Linked DNA regions of Homo sapiens: regions 2, 3 and 4 are each linked to region 1. Evidence: fine-mapped expression QTL. A gene starts in region 1. Each other region holds a variant in brackets. All regions are shown on one strand. Distances are between the middles of the regions.

Region 1 (4,169 bases):
AAACTTTTTGTTAGACTATCAAGCCTATTAAGGGACTCACAAATTGGAGTCATACGGGACATCTCTGCGGTTTTTTAATAGCTTCCAATTTACCAGTTGAGGATTCTAAGAATCATCAGTGAAGACAACGTAGTGAAACAGGGATTTGTTATATCATGGGATTCTCTCTAAAACCTTTAATTTATGGAATTCTTTCTGGGGTGGTAGAGGCGGAGAAGAGGAGGATTAGAGAAAGTTAAGATTCTTGGTTGAAAATATAACTTTTAAAAGTAAAGTGGGGGATAAACGAGGAAAATTACACCATATGTCAAGGGCATTATTTATCATAATCCACATTTTCAAACTCTAAGGAAATTGTTTATAAACAACGTCTGGATTTTTCCTTTGCAAGCATATACAATTTTTAAGTTTGAACTTCTTCCCTCAGAATTACTCCTTGTCTCAAAAAGTTTCAAAAATGTCTTTGATTTTTCTCCCCCTATTAAACAGACTTTATTTTTAAAGCATTTTTTAGCTTCACAGCAAAATTGAGCAGAAAATTCGAAGTTCCCATGTACCTCCCCCATGCCTTCCTGTCTCCAGCAGCCTCCCGGACTACCAACAACCCGTATCAGTGCAGTACATTTGTTACAAGTGATGAAACACATTGACACATCATTATCCCCAACATACATAGTTTACATTAGGGTTTACTCTTGGTGTTCTACATTCTATGGATTTTGATTAATGTATAATTACATGTATCAGCCATTTTATAGTATCATACAGAATAGTGTCATTACCCTAAAAATCCTGTGCTTCACCTGTTCATCCTCGGCAGCCCAAAATATGTTTACTTTTGCAAAGTTGTCTTCAAATAAATACTTAAAAGCAAGGACAAGACCCCCCAAGTTTTAGACAAGTACTAAATTAAGTAGCTCTTACCTACTTGAAAACTAAATGAGAGTAGTATTCATCAACAGAAAGCTAAGCGGGCAAAATGCTTTCCCCGCTTTTCCCCCATGACAAGCAAGATTAACCAAAAATATTACAGTTATTTAAAAGAAAAAAAGAAAGAAACCAAATGGGAAGAGAATAGAATGCAATCACGCTACCATTAACAATTTATGTTTTTCTGTTCTTGGATACCTTTTTGAGTGCCTGAGAATTTTAGTCGCAAGGAATGAAAAAAACTGTTTTCTCATTTCGAGTTTTTATTGGTCAATAGCTTCCTAACCGAAAACTCTGCAGTCCTAACACAATATTTTGTATCCATTTTCAAAAATCCAGTTCTGGGCATAAAATAGAATTAATGCTCAAGTCAAAAACTTTGTGTTTAGAAGATAAAATATTAGGAACCATGAGTATGAGAAAAACAAAAACTGTTTTCTGTATTTTTCCCTTCCTCTCTCTGCAAAACTTCTCTATTTGATAAGGGACAGCTAGCTTAAATTTACCACAAAGTAAAACATGAGCAAATCCCCTGGAACGAGGAGAACTTTCGCACAGGGCAATTCACTCGAATGTGACATCAGCATTCCTTCTGAGTCATAGTCTGGTCCCCACCCTTTTCTCCCAGGCGACACCAGGCTCCGCATAACCCGGGAGTGGCTCAGGTAGGGCCGTCGGTTCCAGTGCCTGCGAGGCAGCAGCCAAGCTGAAAATGTCTCCCTGCGCTGAGACGCTGGTGACAACCGCCCTTTGGGACTACCTGCCAAACAAGGAGAATGCGCTCTTTGACAGATAATTCCCTAAGAGGGAGGCACTGCCTCGGTCGGTAGACAAGTAATGAATGACCGAAAAAAAAATCACATTAGAAGTTATCACCAGCACGGGTGCGAAGGCAGTGCATTAAATCAACACTCATTTTAGAGCGCCCCAGACAGCCCAGCCGGAAGGGAGGAGATCAGAGCTGTCAAAGCACAGCAGAGCCCCAAACCACAAAGGCTTAATGAAATTCAACTTCCTGAGCCAGGAAGTGTCACGGTCTCGCCCGCACTCGCCCTAAGCTCGTCCTTTCCTTTTGAGGAGGCACAGGCAGAGCTGAAACATCTTAAGTAAAGTTTCCAACACCTACAACCACTGGGATTCCGTGAGACTGGAGAGAAGAGTCCCGCGCCCGCCCTCGCTCGCGCTTCCAATTCTGTCGCTCCCGAGTGTGGGGAGCTGGCGGGGCCGCCGAGCACCTCCTCTACCCAGGGGGCCAGGTCCCTGGGCCCGGGGCACCGCAGACCCAGAGCCGGGCTCACACCGGGGGGCCCGCGAGCCCCACCCACCTCGGCACCTCCGGCCGCCGCGCGCCGCGCGACCCGCGCAGGTGAAGCAGCCGCCGCCCGCCACGAGCGCCCCCCTACCTTCTTCACTTTGTTTTCCAGGTCCATGTTAACGCGTCCTATGGGTCCCCTCCTCCTCCTATCCGGGATCCCACGGCCGGGTTCAGCTGGCCTCCGGCTCCGCTGCGAACACGGGAAACCTGCGGAACTCCCGCGGCGCCGCTCAACAGCCACTCGCCCGGCGCCGTCGAACTTCCGCCGCCCAGTCCGCCGCAGCGGGCCTGCGGCCCGGACCCGGGAACAAAGGGGGCCGGGCAGCCAATGGCAGCCGGGCAGCTCCGGGCCGCCGCCAATCACCGAGCGCCGCACGCACCTTCGCGGCCCGAGCGCGGCGCTGGCAAGGTGAGAGGCGGGGCGGCGTCCGAGGCGGCGCCCTGCTGGGCAAGCTCAGTGACCCTGACCTGGTCTCCGAAGGGATTCTCTGGGCGTCCACGGGCCGGCTTCTAAAGAGCTGGGATCCCCAGCCTCCCTCTAGCTGAAGATGGAGAAGAACTTTTTCCATTTGGCAATTTGTACCTGTGTTTGCCCAGGACTTTTTATTTGGGTCAAGGGGAATAGTTATCCCAATACTAACTTCTCAGTTTATTTTCAGGGTAAAGAGAGAAAAAAAAGAGAGAGAGAGAGATTGTAGGGATCGTTAGGGATTCCTGTGATGGACCTTGGGCACTAAATTCAATATTGCGTTGTGGAGATGCCCTTTCCTCAATTGCTTTTTTCCACAATCCCAAATACTGTCAAGAAACCGTATCTTACATCCCTAAAGTCAGCGAAGATTCTTAGATTGTTTTCTGAGCATTGGGTTGTTCAAAAGTAAAGATGATGTGAATCACTTCAGAAACAGGTTGTGTCATTCCTTTGGAAGCAGAGGGTTGCCCTTTGTCTCTGTGTGAGATGGTGCTAGGCCTATCGCGTGCTCAGGCTTTGATGAAGCAGAGTCATCACATTGGTGCACCAAAGCTGAATTCATTTCATGCCCTAATTCAGGAGCAATTGCATCTAATACCATCAGATTGGTCGGTCTGGAAGGGAGCCTAACGATTACTTAGTCTAGCTTCCTCACTTTGCAGGGAACTGAGGACTCCAGAGGTGCAGGGACCTGCCTAATGTCTTAGCCTGTTGGGGACAGAGGCATTGCTCATGAATCTAAACAACTTCTCAAAGATGTTTGGGGCTGGAAGCACAGCATGTTGACTAAGGAAAAAGAGCAGTCAATTTTCTTCAATTTGTGGTTATGGCAAAAAATAACATTGCCCAGACAGCAGGTGACCTAATTTGGCACCTACTTTTAAAAATAACAAAACAATATAAAACAAACAAACAAAAATTCCCTAATAATGCAGATATTCAGGTCCAGATGTATGTCTGCCTTGCCTCGAGAAATTTGGTAGCTAAAAATATCCAAAATTCATTTTAGCCAATACTTGCAACTCTGCTTACTTGATTATTTGTTAACACAGAGCATTGATTTATAATGTGCATGTTTCCTTTATCCTATTAAGAATTAAAACTGAAATTACCAAAATGAGTTATGCATTTTTCTTTTCAGCTGATGTAAAACTTTTCTGTGTCATTTTCCCAAACCACCTTGAAAGGTGTGGGCCCCTGCAAAGTCTGCCCGTTGTAAGTGTATAGGATCATGAGGTCTAGCTATGACAAGGCAATTTTGTTTCTTTCAGAGAGCTTAACAGATGGAAAATGTCCAGTAAAGCAATTTAAATAAGGCATCAAACAAATGTTGTAACATAAATTTTGGACCCTTATTTGATGAGGTTGCAGAGATGACACTAAGAAAACCATCTGGAAACTTTTTTTTTTTAACTGTCAACTTCTGCCTTTCTCCCATTCTTCCTTCCCAAC
Region 2 (4,169 bases), 77 kb before region 1:
GAGTTAATGGGTGCAGCACACCAACATGGCACATGTATGCATAAGTAACAAACCTGCACGTTGTGCACATGTACCCTAGAACTTAAAGTATTTTAAAAAATGATGTTAAAAGCAGGTACTGTGATCACTCACCTGATTTTTGTTTTTTATGAAGGTACTTTTTTGTTTAGATAGTTGTTCAATTTTGTTTTGATAGTTGTTCAATTCCTTTCGGGGAGATGATTGCTGGAGGCTTCTATTTGGCCATCTTGTTCCATCTCCTCCTGTATAGTACTTTTTAATGCTGTCTTATGATTTTCTGATCTTACACAAAGGTCTTAAGTACGTTTGCCTGCTCAGAGAAAAAAAAGTGTATCAAATGTAGGTCTTCCATAGTATGATTCATTTTAATTTTGAGGACTTTATTGGCTCATTACAAAAAATGTTTTCACTAATAATAACAACTTTCTTTTAAATCAAAACACATTATGAAAACACACAATTTTTTTTAGAAAAAGTGTTCAGTAAATATTATTTAACAATGCTTCTCTAACTTCAGCCAAACCAGAGAAGAGTAATTTATGGATTTTGAAAAGTTCATATGTGTAGTTTGCAGAAGTGATATTTGGTACATTCTTTGTGTAGTTGCCAAAATTTCTCCACCAAAAATTAGAACTCATTTGATAAAAATTGTTGACAAAAATAACCACAATAACAATACACAATGTATGATGTGAGAAGCTTATTAATATGATAAATAATATATCTTAAGCGTAATGAAAGAGTTTTTTAACTCCAAAAATTCAGTTTGTATTTAGTACAGCTAGAAGTTCTGTTACAAAAATGCATAAATTCAAGGTTCACTTCTTAATACCTAATTGGTTTTGCCCACTATTCTATAAATAATCCATAAAATTACATGTTCTTTACATCTTCTGTGATAATTAAAACAATATTTAACCAGATTTTAACAAATCTAGCTAATTGTTTCTTCTGTACTCAATTATTTCTACTTACTTCAAAAAAAGTAAACATCAGAACCAAGATCAGGTTTCACGTGTGAGAATTTGGAGTTTTTTTTTTTTAACATAACATCTAAATTTGAAGTACTCTAATTTTAAAAATTAGGATATGATGAATATTTATCAGAAGATCCTCTTTTTCAGATAGTTGAAAACTTTTGTGTATACATTCAGCATCAGAAATAACATATTGATTATTTTGGCTGGGCACGGTGGCTCACGCCTGTAATCCCAGCACTTTGGGAGGCCGAGGCAGGTGGATCATGAGGCCAGGAGGTCAAGAAATAACATATTGATTATTTTAATGGATTGATAGCCATCTTTAATGCCAATACAACATTATGCCTGTAAATTTAGCATTATTGCTTTTCATAAGAAAAAGAAATACAGTGGCATGTTATGCTTTTAAAATTTCCTGATTTGGCCAGGCGCGGTGGCTCACGCCTGTAATCCCAGCCCTTTGGGAGGCTGAGGTGGGTGGATCACAAGGTCAGCAGATTGAGACCAGCCTGGCTAACATGGTGAAACCCCGTCTCTACTAAAAATATAAAAAAAAAAAAAATTAGCTGGGCGTGGTGGCAGGCACCTGTGGTCCCAGCTACCTCAGAGGCTGAGGCAGGAGAATGGCATGAACCCAGGAGGCGGTGCTTGCAGTGAGCCGAGATGGCACCACTGCCCTCCAGCCTGGGCGACAGAGCAAGACTCCGTCTCAAAAAAAAAAAAAAAAAAAAATTCTTGATTTAAGGTAGCAAGGCTTTAAAAATAAATCTACAACTATTTCTTACAAACACTTCAAACTCTGAGAAAGATGAAAGCTAAACAAAGGACAATACTGGTATGAGTCATATATTTATTGAAAAGGAAACATAAAGAACTACCGTGCAGGCACACACTGCTGGACTGTAAATGAGGCTCATTTGAGGCTGGGGATACGTGAATGTGCTTGTTGTGCTGGGCCCAGGGAGCCTCTGGGCACAGCTCTTCATGGAAGTGGCCTGTAGGGTGAGTAGGGGTGAACCCCTTCCTGCAAGCCATGGACGGCAGAATACAGTGGAAATAAAACTTACTCGGTCTGGATGGCAGAATTAGAGATAGCATAGTGGCATGGGTTGACAGCCTCTCCTTCTCCCAATACCTATCCGAAACAAAACCCCAAAGTTAAAAATTCACCAATAGCTTAACAAGAAAAGATAAAACTTCTTTCCATAAAATGTGGAAAGTGATGACTTGATAGAGAGGAAAAAGAATCTTCTGGTTAAATATCATCCATGTACCC[C/A]AAACTGGCCAATGGTTTCTCATTTTCCTCAAAGTCCAAGTCCTTAAAATGCCTTCCAGGGCTCTCTATGACCTGGGTCCCAATACTGTGACTTCATCCCCTATTATTCTCCTGATTCACTCCTCACCGGTTGTGTTGGCCTCCTCACTGTGCCTCTAACATGCCGATCACTTTTCCAGTGCAGGCCCTTTCCATCTGTATTTCCTCTGCCAGAGCAGTTCTTCCCTGACAATGTACAGGGCTCATTCCTCCATTTTCTTCAGGTCTATGCTCAAAAGTCACCTTACCAGAGGTCCTTTCAGAACACCCTGTCCCAAACAGCAGACCCTATAGTCTCTGATATGCTTACTGTGATGGTTAATATTGAGTGTCAGCTTAATTAGACTGAAGGAAGCAAAGTATTGTTCCTGGGTGTGTCTGTGAGGGTGTTACCAGAGACTAACATTTGAGTCAGTGGATTGGGAGAGGCAGACCCACCTTTAATCTGAGTGGGCACCATCTAATCAGCTGCCAGCATGGTTAGAATAAAGCAGGCAGAAGAACTTGGAAGGAGCAGACTTGCTGAGTCTTCTAGCCTTCATCCTCCTCCTGTGCTGGATGCTTCCTGCCCTCAAACATCAGACTCCAAGTTTTCCAGCTCTTGGCCTCTTGAACCGACACCAGTGGTTTGCCACAGTCTCTCGGGCCTTCAGCCACAGACTGAAGGCTGAACTGTCCACTTCCTTACTTTTGAGGTTTTGGGACTCGGACTGGCTTCCTTGTTCCTCAGCCTGCAGACGGCCTATTGTGGGGCCTTGTGATTGTGTGAGTCAATAATCTTTAATAAACTCCCCCTCATATATACATCTATCCTATTAGTTCTGTCCCTCTAGAGAACCCTGGCTAAACACTTATTTCATTTTTGTCTATAACACTTATACAACCTGGCTTATATAAATCTGTTTTGTTATTCATTCATTGTTGTCACGTCAACAATAGTAATATTCATAGTTCAGGCACATTGTGTATTTTGTTCACTGCTGTAAAACTAAAATGATACTTGGCACAGAGTTGACACTCAGAAATATGTGTTGAATAAGTAAATTCTGGTGTGGCATAGAGTTCTGGCTGTGGTCCCATCCTGCAGAAGCAAAATTCTTTTAGTATTGTGAGGTCACAGAGTCATGGCATTCTCACTCGCATCTTCCATGGGGAGACAGGTGGAATGGTGAGGTACCCTTGGAAGGTTAAGAGAAAAATTTAGTAAACACTTTTGAGTATATAGACTCTTGCTGCATGATCCCACTGTGTAAGAATTTGCTTATTTCCAGGGCTTCATACCAAGATGGGTATAGCAGAAGCCTACCTGTATGATAAAGGAGTGAATACACTCCCAGCTGGGTGCAGGGGGGCCTGCCAGAGTATCTTTAACAGTGTTTCAGAAAGGAAGTATGTGGCTTCATTGGAGTATTCCCTTTCTTCTCCTTCCTAGCCTCAGTTTACAGAAAGTGGAAAGAAAGTAATATCCAGCTTTCAAAATTAGAGCCAAAATGTCCTACAAGAGATGGCAAGGATGGCAATCAAACAGATTTTACTATGTAATATCCAAGTTACAAATGAACAAGATGTAGAAATATGACCCCTCAATCAATAGATATATAGATCTATTGAGGAATATGTGAAGAATGAATGTAGACATTGATTTTTCTTCTTACTTTTCTTCCAATTAAGCAATCTCTATCTGTGAACCTGTAGTCAATTCAGAGTTCCCCAGACTGGCGTTCTGTTACAGAGGGAGTTTAGATTCAACTTCAGGTGAGTGATGGAGACCCTCTAGGCTGAGCTCCAAGGTGTGGCTTGGTAGTGACAGGCTTGAGGCTGAGCAGAGGGGCATGTTGGTCTCCTGCCTCTTA
Region 3 (4,169 bases), 140 kb before region 1:
TTATAAAAGAGGATGGCTCCTTACTTGCTATGACCTCTGCAATTTTGCCCCATTTGACAAAAGTGATTCTAAGAACTTTGCATATGTCCGATTTGATCCCGAATGAAATGACTGAAAGAAGATTCATTGACGATTTCATTGTGAAATCTGCTATAACATTATTCTGCTGCACATTATCAAAGAAGTGCCTTGCGTAGTAAAGTACAGAGATGGCACAACTTAGCACTGTGTACATTTTGCTAGTTCTGTGTTGAAAATATATATCTGAAAAATTTGACCGTTGTTTATGAGAAGTTTATTTCTATTATCCCACAAGACTGTCAGGTGTGCTCATGAAGCAGCAACAAAATAGCTGAATGAAAAATCTATTGTAGGATCTCCAAACATTCAGAAGCATAGCACGCTTTTTCTTTTACAGACTTTTGATTTTGTTGCCACAAGGCAGCATGTAATCTCATCATCATGTAAATCCTAGGGAGCAAATTTTCTGGCAGAAATCTTTCACTGTGCCCCAGAACAGCACTTTAAATGTAGGGTTTACCTGGGTCTTAGGGTGGAGGTTGCCTCAATTGCTTTCTAGAATTTCTTGTTGTTATCCAGCTTAATTTTGAAGAGTAGCTCGTCATCATTTCCTTTCTGCCTCACTCCATTCCTCTCTCCTCTTTTCTTCTCTCCTTCAACAAATGTTATCTCCAAACTGTATGATGAGTTTCTGGTGAACATACAAGTATTAAATATGATCCTTACCCTCACAAAACTTTCTTCTTGTGGGGAGAAAGTATAGAAGAAACATCACAACCATGCTGGCTGGTAAGAATTATATTTGGAGTGTTGTGGAAAACATAATTGGACACCTAACCAATCCTGGATGGAGCGGGACAGTTGAGTGAGAAAGTGTAGTGTTAGGGATGGTATCTGGAAGAGATGATCCCAGGTGGTGTTGGGAAGATGGAAGAGAGCCTGTTTAAAGATATGGGTGTGGAAAATGGAAGTAGACAAATGCATAAAGTCAAGGGATTAGGTGGCATCAAGGAAGTGGCAAATAGTTCTGTGTTACTGAAAAGCAAAGTAGATGGGTTGGGGAGGTTGGAGTACAAGAAGTGACTAGTGAGGTAGGCAGACTAAGTCAGGGATAATGTTGTATTTGTTTATGTTAAAGATTTTGGAATTTTGCTGAAGAAGTATGGAGACATTAAAGAATTTTAATGATCAAGTTTTCCTGTTACCCATATCATTCTAGTGATGTGTAGAGTATAGACTGGATGGCAAGTCTGGAGGTAAGAAAACCTATTAGAAGGCTATGGGAATCGTCCAAGGGAGAAATGATGAGGGTCTGATCTAAGGCAATGACAATGTGATGGAGATGAGAGGATGGGCTAGAGAGAATTTGAAAGGGTATAATGACAGGACTTGTGCTTAAATAGATTTGTTGAAAAAAAAGCACAAACAGGCCTTTGTCGATGAGGTCTTTATTGCTGTAAGACCATCTATTCCAACCATGTCTAAAGTCCCTGGAGATCCAACCAGAGGAATTCAAACTGAACAACTGCAAAAATTCGTAACTCCACAGAACACATATCAAACGCTCTGTGCTGTGTCACATGCTTGTGAAGGTCCATATTTGAGATTCTCCAAATTTTTTAACTTTTCTCAGGAAATATCCTCTCTAAATAACTACTGGAGATACAACAATTAATTTTTCTAGCATAGAGCCCCAGGATTAGCCTCCATATACTTTTCCTTCTAATAGGTAATTTGGTTTTTTTTTTCCAACTCTATCAGAAGCTTTATAATCCATGTCTTTTTAATAATTATTCTATAACAAAGACTCTTATCTAAAAAGTCATGGCAGCCATCATAATTTGACCTACTTGCAAAACTTTTTCTTTTCAGCTTTTTTGCTCTTCAATCAGTTAAAACTAATATTAATATATTATTTTAGTTTCTACATTGTTGTGTTACAGCTAGTGATTGTTTTTGCATTCTGCAAGCACAGGTGTCCACATGTAGTGAAGGCTGCCCCTGAGCTGTAGCTATTCTTTCGTGGAGCTTTGAAGGGTTTTCATACTCAGAGTGAGCAGTTAAGGGGAGCAAGCAGGGAAGCCAGGC[A/G]GGAAAATGGTGATTGGCCAAAGGACTGTCTGTGGAGCAGTAAAGTCAGTTGCAAGTCTTACCTTTTGTACATTAAATGGTGACAGTGACTTTTTACTCTCACTCTAAAATCCACATTGTATATGTCTAAAGAAATGGAATCATCAGCCTGAGGACTATGACATCTTGCTCATTTACTGAGGAGTCAGATTTTGTACAACTTCAGTGTACACCTGAACATGGGTGTAAGACAAGAAAGAGTGCCACACACCAGAATGGCTATTGAGAAGCTCAGAGGCTGGGTCTAGGCCCTTATTCTAAAATTCGCTGCCTTGAATCTAATGTTTCAGGTTGCAGCACCTGATTAAAGCCTTCTTCCTTGGCAATACTAATTGTTTCAGTGATTGGCTTTCTTTTGCAGCAAGCAATGGGACCTAGACCGAATCCCTGGCCTTTGTAGTAACAAAAGCAGCAAGAGAAAAGCAACCTGCCATATACAAGGGCTACTCAATAAGATTATGAGCAAATTTGTCATGAGAGAATTTGAAGGCCAACGGCAGTGGGCCAAAATATTAAGAGTGCTAAAAGTAAAACAAAGAGTAAGAGTAAGTAAGTAAAACAAAAAGTAAAAAGTAAAACAAAAAGTAAAAGTAAAAAAGGTCAACCTAGAATCTTATATCTAGCAAAATTGTCCATCAAAAGTAAGGCAGAAGTTAAGACATTCCCAGATAAAGAAAAGCTAAGGGAGTTCATTACAACTAGATATTCTCTGCAAGAAATACTCAAGGGAGTGTCCTGCAGGGTAAAATAAAAGGACACTAGAGAGTAATGTGAAGCCATATGAAGAAATACATATCTCAATAAAGGTAAATTCATAGACAATTATAGAAGCTAATATTATTGTCACAATGGTCTATTACTTTTGTTTTCTACATGGTTTAAAAGACTAATACATTAAAAATAATCTAAAAGCTGGTAATATTGTAATTTTGACTTATAAATCCACATTTTTTAACATAATTTAAGAGACTAATACCATTTAAATAATTATTAATGTATTTTGGACATCATGTATAAAGACATAATTGTGTGACATCAACAATTGAAAGGGGTGAGAATGAAGTTGTTAAAGGAACAGAGATTTTGTGTATTATTGAAGTTACTTTGGAACAAATTCAAATTAGAATGTTACAACTTTAGGAACTTAAGTGTAATCCCCATGATAACCACAAAATGTAGCTATAGAAAACAAACAGAAGAAATGTGAAAGGAATTTAAATGTTTCACTACAAAAAAATAAACACAAAAGAAGATAATGATATAGGATGTGAAGGATGAAAATGCTATAAGGCCTACAGAAAACAAATAGCAAAATGACAGAAGTATGTGCTTACTTAACAGTAATTGCTTTAAATGTAAGTGGCATAAGCTCTCAAATCAAAAGACAGAGATTGGCAGAATGAATAAAATACGTGATTCAAATATATGCTGTCTACAAAAGACTCACTTTAGATCCAAAGATACAAATAGATTGGAAGTGAAAGGATGGAAAAAGATATTTCATGCAGATAGTAACCAACATAGAGAAAGTCTGGCTATACTAACATCAGACAAAATAGTCTTTAAGTTTAAAAAGTTTACAAGGGACAAAAGAACATTATATATTAATGAAAGTTTTAGTATAGCAAGAAGATAGATCAATTATAAACATTTACTCACCTAATCACAGATCATGAAAATATATAAAATAAAAACTGACAAAATTGAAAGGAGAAATATAGTAGTATAATAATAGAGACTTCAATATCTTGGTTAAGAGGGTGTTGTTTAATTTCCACAATTCTGTGGAATTTTCCAGTTTTATTTCTGTTATTGATTTCTAACTTCATTCTCTAGAGATGAGAGAAGACATTTAATCAGATATCTATTTTTTTAAGTCTATTGAGACTTAATGTGTAGCCTAATATGTAGTGAATCCTGAAAAACATCCCAGATACAATTGAGAAGAATGTGTACATTGTTGTTGGGTAGAATGTTCTGTGTGTGTGTGTGTGTGTGTGTGTGTGTGTGTGTATATATAT
Region 4 (4,169 bases), 37 kb before region 1:
AAATAGATTTAGTTGGGTAAAAAGTAACACTTTCTCTCCATGAAATTATATATTTTTTCAGTTTGTAAGATCTGAGTTACTACTGTTTACTTAAGCTAAATAAACAAATGTACAATTGAAAGAAAACATAAACTTTTAGGCAGACATGTTTGGAATGGTCTGTAGGACCAGGAACATTTTTATTACATAAAAAATGATATCGCAAAATTCACTTTAATGATTTAACTAACCTTAAAAGACTTCCAAATGTTTCATTTGGTTGTTATAATAGTGGAAGGAGCTTGATATAAAACTGTGATCTTTTTGGTCTTATATAGTATTAATAAAGGAAATGAAAAAAACACAAAGATAATGTTGAATATTTTTTTCAGTTCTAAACTATGACAAAAATTCTCTTCTTTACCATCTTAAGATAAATCCTCTCAAGACTAAGCTAGAAGAGTTACTAGATTGATATAAAACATCTGATTTCCATCTAATTATTAAGAACGTTAGACCATTCCCTCAAAAAGGTAAACATATCTAGGGAGTTGGAAAAATTTTATGAAGTATCTAGTCTTACATTCAAAAGACTAGAACAGGAATCAGAAGTCAAAGTAATGAGAACCCCGGAAGAATAACAGATCTGGGATGTGTGAAGTTGATTAGGTCATCAAAGAAACTGCCCCAAATAAATACTCCAGGAACTTCAATAAAGAAACTCTCTGTTCCATATCATTTACCAATGCTTGATTCTGGACAGGAGGAGCCCACTCATAGGTAACTGTATTGATGGAGACATTCTTCTTGGCAGCAACTGGATTCGTCAATATCATAACATTGCGTTTATACATGGGAATTCCATCTGACTTTAGTTTTGCAATCAGAGTGGTATACTTGGTGTCTTCAAAAAGTTTTCCCACTTTTCGATCCTCTTCATTGCTCAAGAGGACATCATGCTCTTCTTGGCCACACTTGCAGTTACGACATATTTTTCTATAATTTTGAAAATAAGTAGAAAATGATTAATTGTACCTAATTGATATTTATGTTCATACATTTATAGTTCATAAAATACTTTTAGGCCTATTCTATATCATGGTATGCAAAGGCAAGTCCTTTTTTAGGAGGGAGAATAAGTATCCATATATTTAAGCAAGAAGGAAACAAAACACGACTTTGCTTGATAAGGCTTTTAAAAGCTAGGTTGTAAAAATTGAAAGAGGGACCCAATTAAACTGAAGAGCTTCTACAAAGCAAAAGAAACTGGCAACAGGACAAACAGACAACCTATAGAATGGAAGAAAATATTTGCAAATCCTGCAACTGACAAAGGTCTAATATTCAGAATCTATAAGGAACAATTCAACAAGCAAAAGACAACCCCATTAAAAAATGGGCAAAGGACATGAACAGATATTTCTCAAAAGAAGATATACATATGGCCAAAAAATATATGAAAACATGCTCAATATCACTAATCATTAAGGAATGCAAATCAAAACGATGATGAGATGCCATCTTCCATCAGTCGGAATAGCTATTACTAAAAAGTCAAAAAATAACAGATGTTGCGGAGAAAAGGGAATGCTTATACACTGTTGGTGAGAATGTAAATTAGTTCAGCCACTGTGGAAAGCAGTTTGGAGATTTCTCAAAGAACTTAGAACTATCATTCAACCCAGCAATCCCAAAGGAAAATGCATTGTTCCACCAAAAGGACAATGCACCCGTATGTTTATCACAGTAGTATTCACAATAGAAAAGACATGGTGGAATCAACCTAGACGCCCATCAATGGTAGACTGGATAAAGAAAATGTGGAACATATTCACCATAGAATACTATGCAGCCATAAAAAAAGAATGAA[A/T]TCATGTCCTTTGAAGCAAAATGAATGCAGCTGGAAGTCATTATCTTAAGTGAATTAATACAGGAAAGGAAAACCAAATACCACATATTCTCACTTATAAGTGGGAGCTAAATATTGAGTACACATGGACACAAAGATGGAACTAACAGACACTAGGGAATATTAGAGTGGGGAGGGTGAGAGGGAGAAACGTTTGAAAAGCTAACTCTCAGGTACTATGGTCACTACCTGGGTGATGGGATCATTTATAACCCAAGCCTCAGTAACATGCAATTTACCCATGTAAAACACCTGCACTGCACAGGTACATTCTGAACCTAAAATGGAAGGTGAAAAAAAGAGGAAAGCAGCAGAATTATCAGTCACTAATAATGTATTTTTGGAAATTACTGAATTAAGTTTTGTGATTTAGATGGTACCATAACGTTTCAACTGAATTTTCTAAGTAAGTATTTTAACAAATTCAGTGTGTTTTGTCAACCAAACGTGCATCTGCATTTCTGATATGATAACGAGAAGCAATTATTCATTTGATTTTTATCAAAACCAACCAAGATTTTTTCAATGAATTCACTGAAAGAAGTGGTGATGGCCCCAATAATAGACATCTTCAATTGTACCATTAAAAAAAAAGACTGATTAAAAAGTGCACACTTAAAGGGACATGTCTGAGTGTAACCCCATCTGATATTCCTTATGCTGTCACCCAATAGTGAATAAAATAAATAATAAAAAGAAATGAATTAAATAAAACCACAAAAATTATATGTTTCCTTATTTAAGCAAGAGGCTTTGTACTTTATTGCATGTTAACATTTTATAGCTATTATCCAAGGTTTCTTGTTTGTTTGTTTTTTTAGTGAGAGACAGGGAAACTTTTCCCATCAAAGATTATAATCCTAGATTTAGGTTTACAGCCTTTCTCATTTTTTTCTCAATTTCTTTTGCCCTCCATTTCCTTCCCTTTGTTTTTCCTTTCTCTTTCCTTCCCTTATTTTATTTCTTCAAACACTTATTGCCACCTACCATGTGCTCTCTGCCATCATGGTGTTTCTTATAGTTCAAGGACAATGTTCTCTTCTTCACTCTGGTCTGGCACACAGACATTCATTCATTCATGCAACATACACGAGTGCCCATGTGCCAAGCAATGTACTTGACACTAGGACATAGTGCTTAAAAAAAAAAAAAAAAAAAAGGGGCCTAGTCTCTGATTTCTAGAACTTACTCTCTGGTGGGAGATAGACATTAAATAATCACACACACACACATACACAGAGAAAATTTCATTTGTGATAGGAAAGAAAGTATAGGGTCCCTTGAGAGGGTGTAATTTGGACTTCAAACTCGTGAAGAAGGGACCCCATAAGAAGATGATATTTAGGTTGAGATCTGGACGATGTATGAAACATAGGTGTAAACTGTGTATGTGGGTGTGTATCTGGGGAGGAGAAAAGGAAAGAAAAGTCTCTAGTATTGGGTATAAAGAGGAATACCTTCAGTGGTCCTGAATTAGGAAAGAAATTGTCCCCTTAGGTGTCATAACCAGGGGAGGTTGGTATGACTGTAGGAAGATGAGTCAATAGGAGGGTGATAAGACTGGAGAGGTAGGCATGAAGTCATGCAGGGGCTCATAGAACACATTAAGGAATTTGGGCTTCATCATAAGAGCAATCAGGAAGCAGCAAAGGCTTTTTGGTAATGGAATAAAATGATCAGATCTGTAATTTTAAATATCACAATATCTGCCATGTGGTAAATGGATTAGGGGTGAAACATAACTGGCAATAGGGAGACAAGCTAACATGTTAATTATGCATCCAGTTTGCAATGGCATGGTTCTAAATAACAGGATGCTGCCACTACTTCACAAATGGAATTTACATCTTGGAGGGTTATTGTTGTGGTCCAGGTAAAATATGCTATGGCTTGGATTAGAGTATTCAACAGTGGAGATGAAAAGAAAGGAAGAAATTTGAGGTCTCCTTGAACAAAAAACTGACTAAACTTAGTGGTTTATTTGGACATAGTGATGGCAAAGGGAAGGCTCAGTGATATGGTTTGGCTGTGACCCCACCCAAATTTCATCTTGAATCGTAGTTCCCATAATCCCCATGTGTTGTGGGAGAGATGTGGTAGGAGGTAATTGAATCATGAGGGCTGTTACCCTCATGCTATTCTCATGATAGTGATTGAGTTCTCTTGAGAGCTGATGGTTTTATAAGGGACTTTTTCCCCTTTTGCTCGGCACTTCTCCTTGCTGCCACAATGTAAAGAACATGTTTGCTTTGCGTTCCACCATGTTTGTAAGTTTCCTGAG

Direction of the effects. Alleles are on the strand shown, and positions count from the first base shown. SD is a standard deviation of normalised expression in the study named. Not every link is listed here.
With allele C in place of A in region 2, the expression in thyroid of the gene that starts at base 2,529 in region 1 is lower (small effect, 0.16 SD a copy in GTEx).
For the expression in left ventricle of the gene that starts at base 2,529 in region 1, allele G in region 3 goes with a lower level than allele A (small effect, 0.18 SD a copy in GTEx).

What was found. PIP is the estimated chance that this variant, and not a neighbour inherited with it, causes the effect.
Region 2: its variant is the best candidate, but not a certain one, in a credible set for the expression of TES in thyroid (GTEx, PIP 0.67).
Region 3: its variant is the best candidate, but not a certain one, in a credible set for the expression of TES in left ventricle (GTEx, PIP 0.80).
Region 4: its variant is the best candidate, but not a certain one, in a credible set for the expression of TES in whole blood (INTERVAL, PIP 0.66).

The regions. Positions count from the first base shown.
Region 1 is chr7:116,208,899-116,213,067 of GRCh38, reverse strand. It overlaps TES (testin LIM domain protein), which reads right to left and starts at 2,529. Exons shown (of 7, transcript NM_015641.4): 1 at 2,334-2,529. The coding sequence starts at 2,360. RefSeq lists an enhancer at 1,601-1,840 and silencers at 2,201-2,290, 2,431-2,630, 2,385-2,647, 2,681-2,810.
Region 2 is chr7:116,286,014-116,290,182 of GRCh38, reverse strand. It overlaps LOC102724434 (a long non-coding RNA gene), which reads left to right and starts at 3,456. Exons shown (of 4, transcript NR_130922.1): 1 at 3,456-3,484; 2 at 3,988-4,071. LOC105375463 (a long non-coding RNA gene) reads right to left here. Exons shown (of 7, transcript XR_001745336.2): 2 at 2,069-2,136; 3 at 133-331. The variant C/A (reference allele first, on the strand shown) is at 2,278.
Region 3 is chr7:116,345,902-116,350,070 of GRCh38, reverse strand. LOC124900233 (a long non-coding RNA gene) reads right to left here. Exons shown (of 3, transcript XR_007060487.1): 3 at 554-712. Among named protein-coding and RNA genes, the nearest start is that of TES, 140 kb to the right of the region's middle. The variant A/G (reference allele first, on the strand shown) is at 2,110.
Region 4 is chr7:116,245,826-116,249,994 of GRCh38, reverse strand. It overlaps TES (testin LIM domain protein), which reads right to left. Exons shown (of 7, transcript NM_015641.4): 3 at 723-975. The region is part of intron 1 of LOC124901730 (a long non-coding RNA gene); the gene reads left to right. Among named protein-coding and RNA genes, the nearest start is that of TES, 37 kb to the right of the region's middle. The variant A/T (reference allele first, on the strand shown) is at 1,850.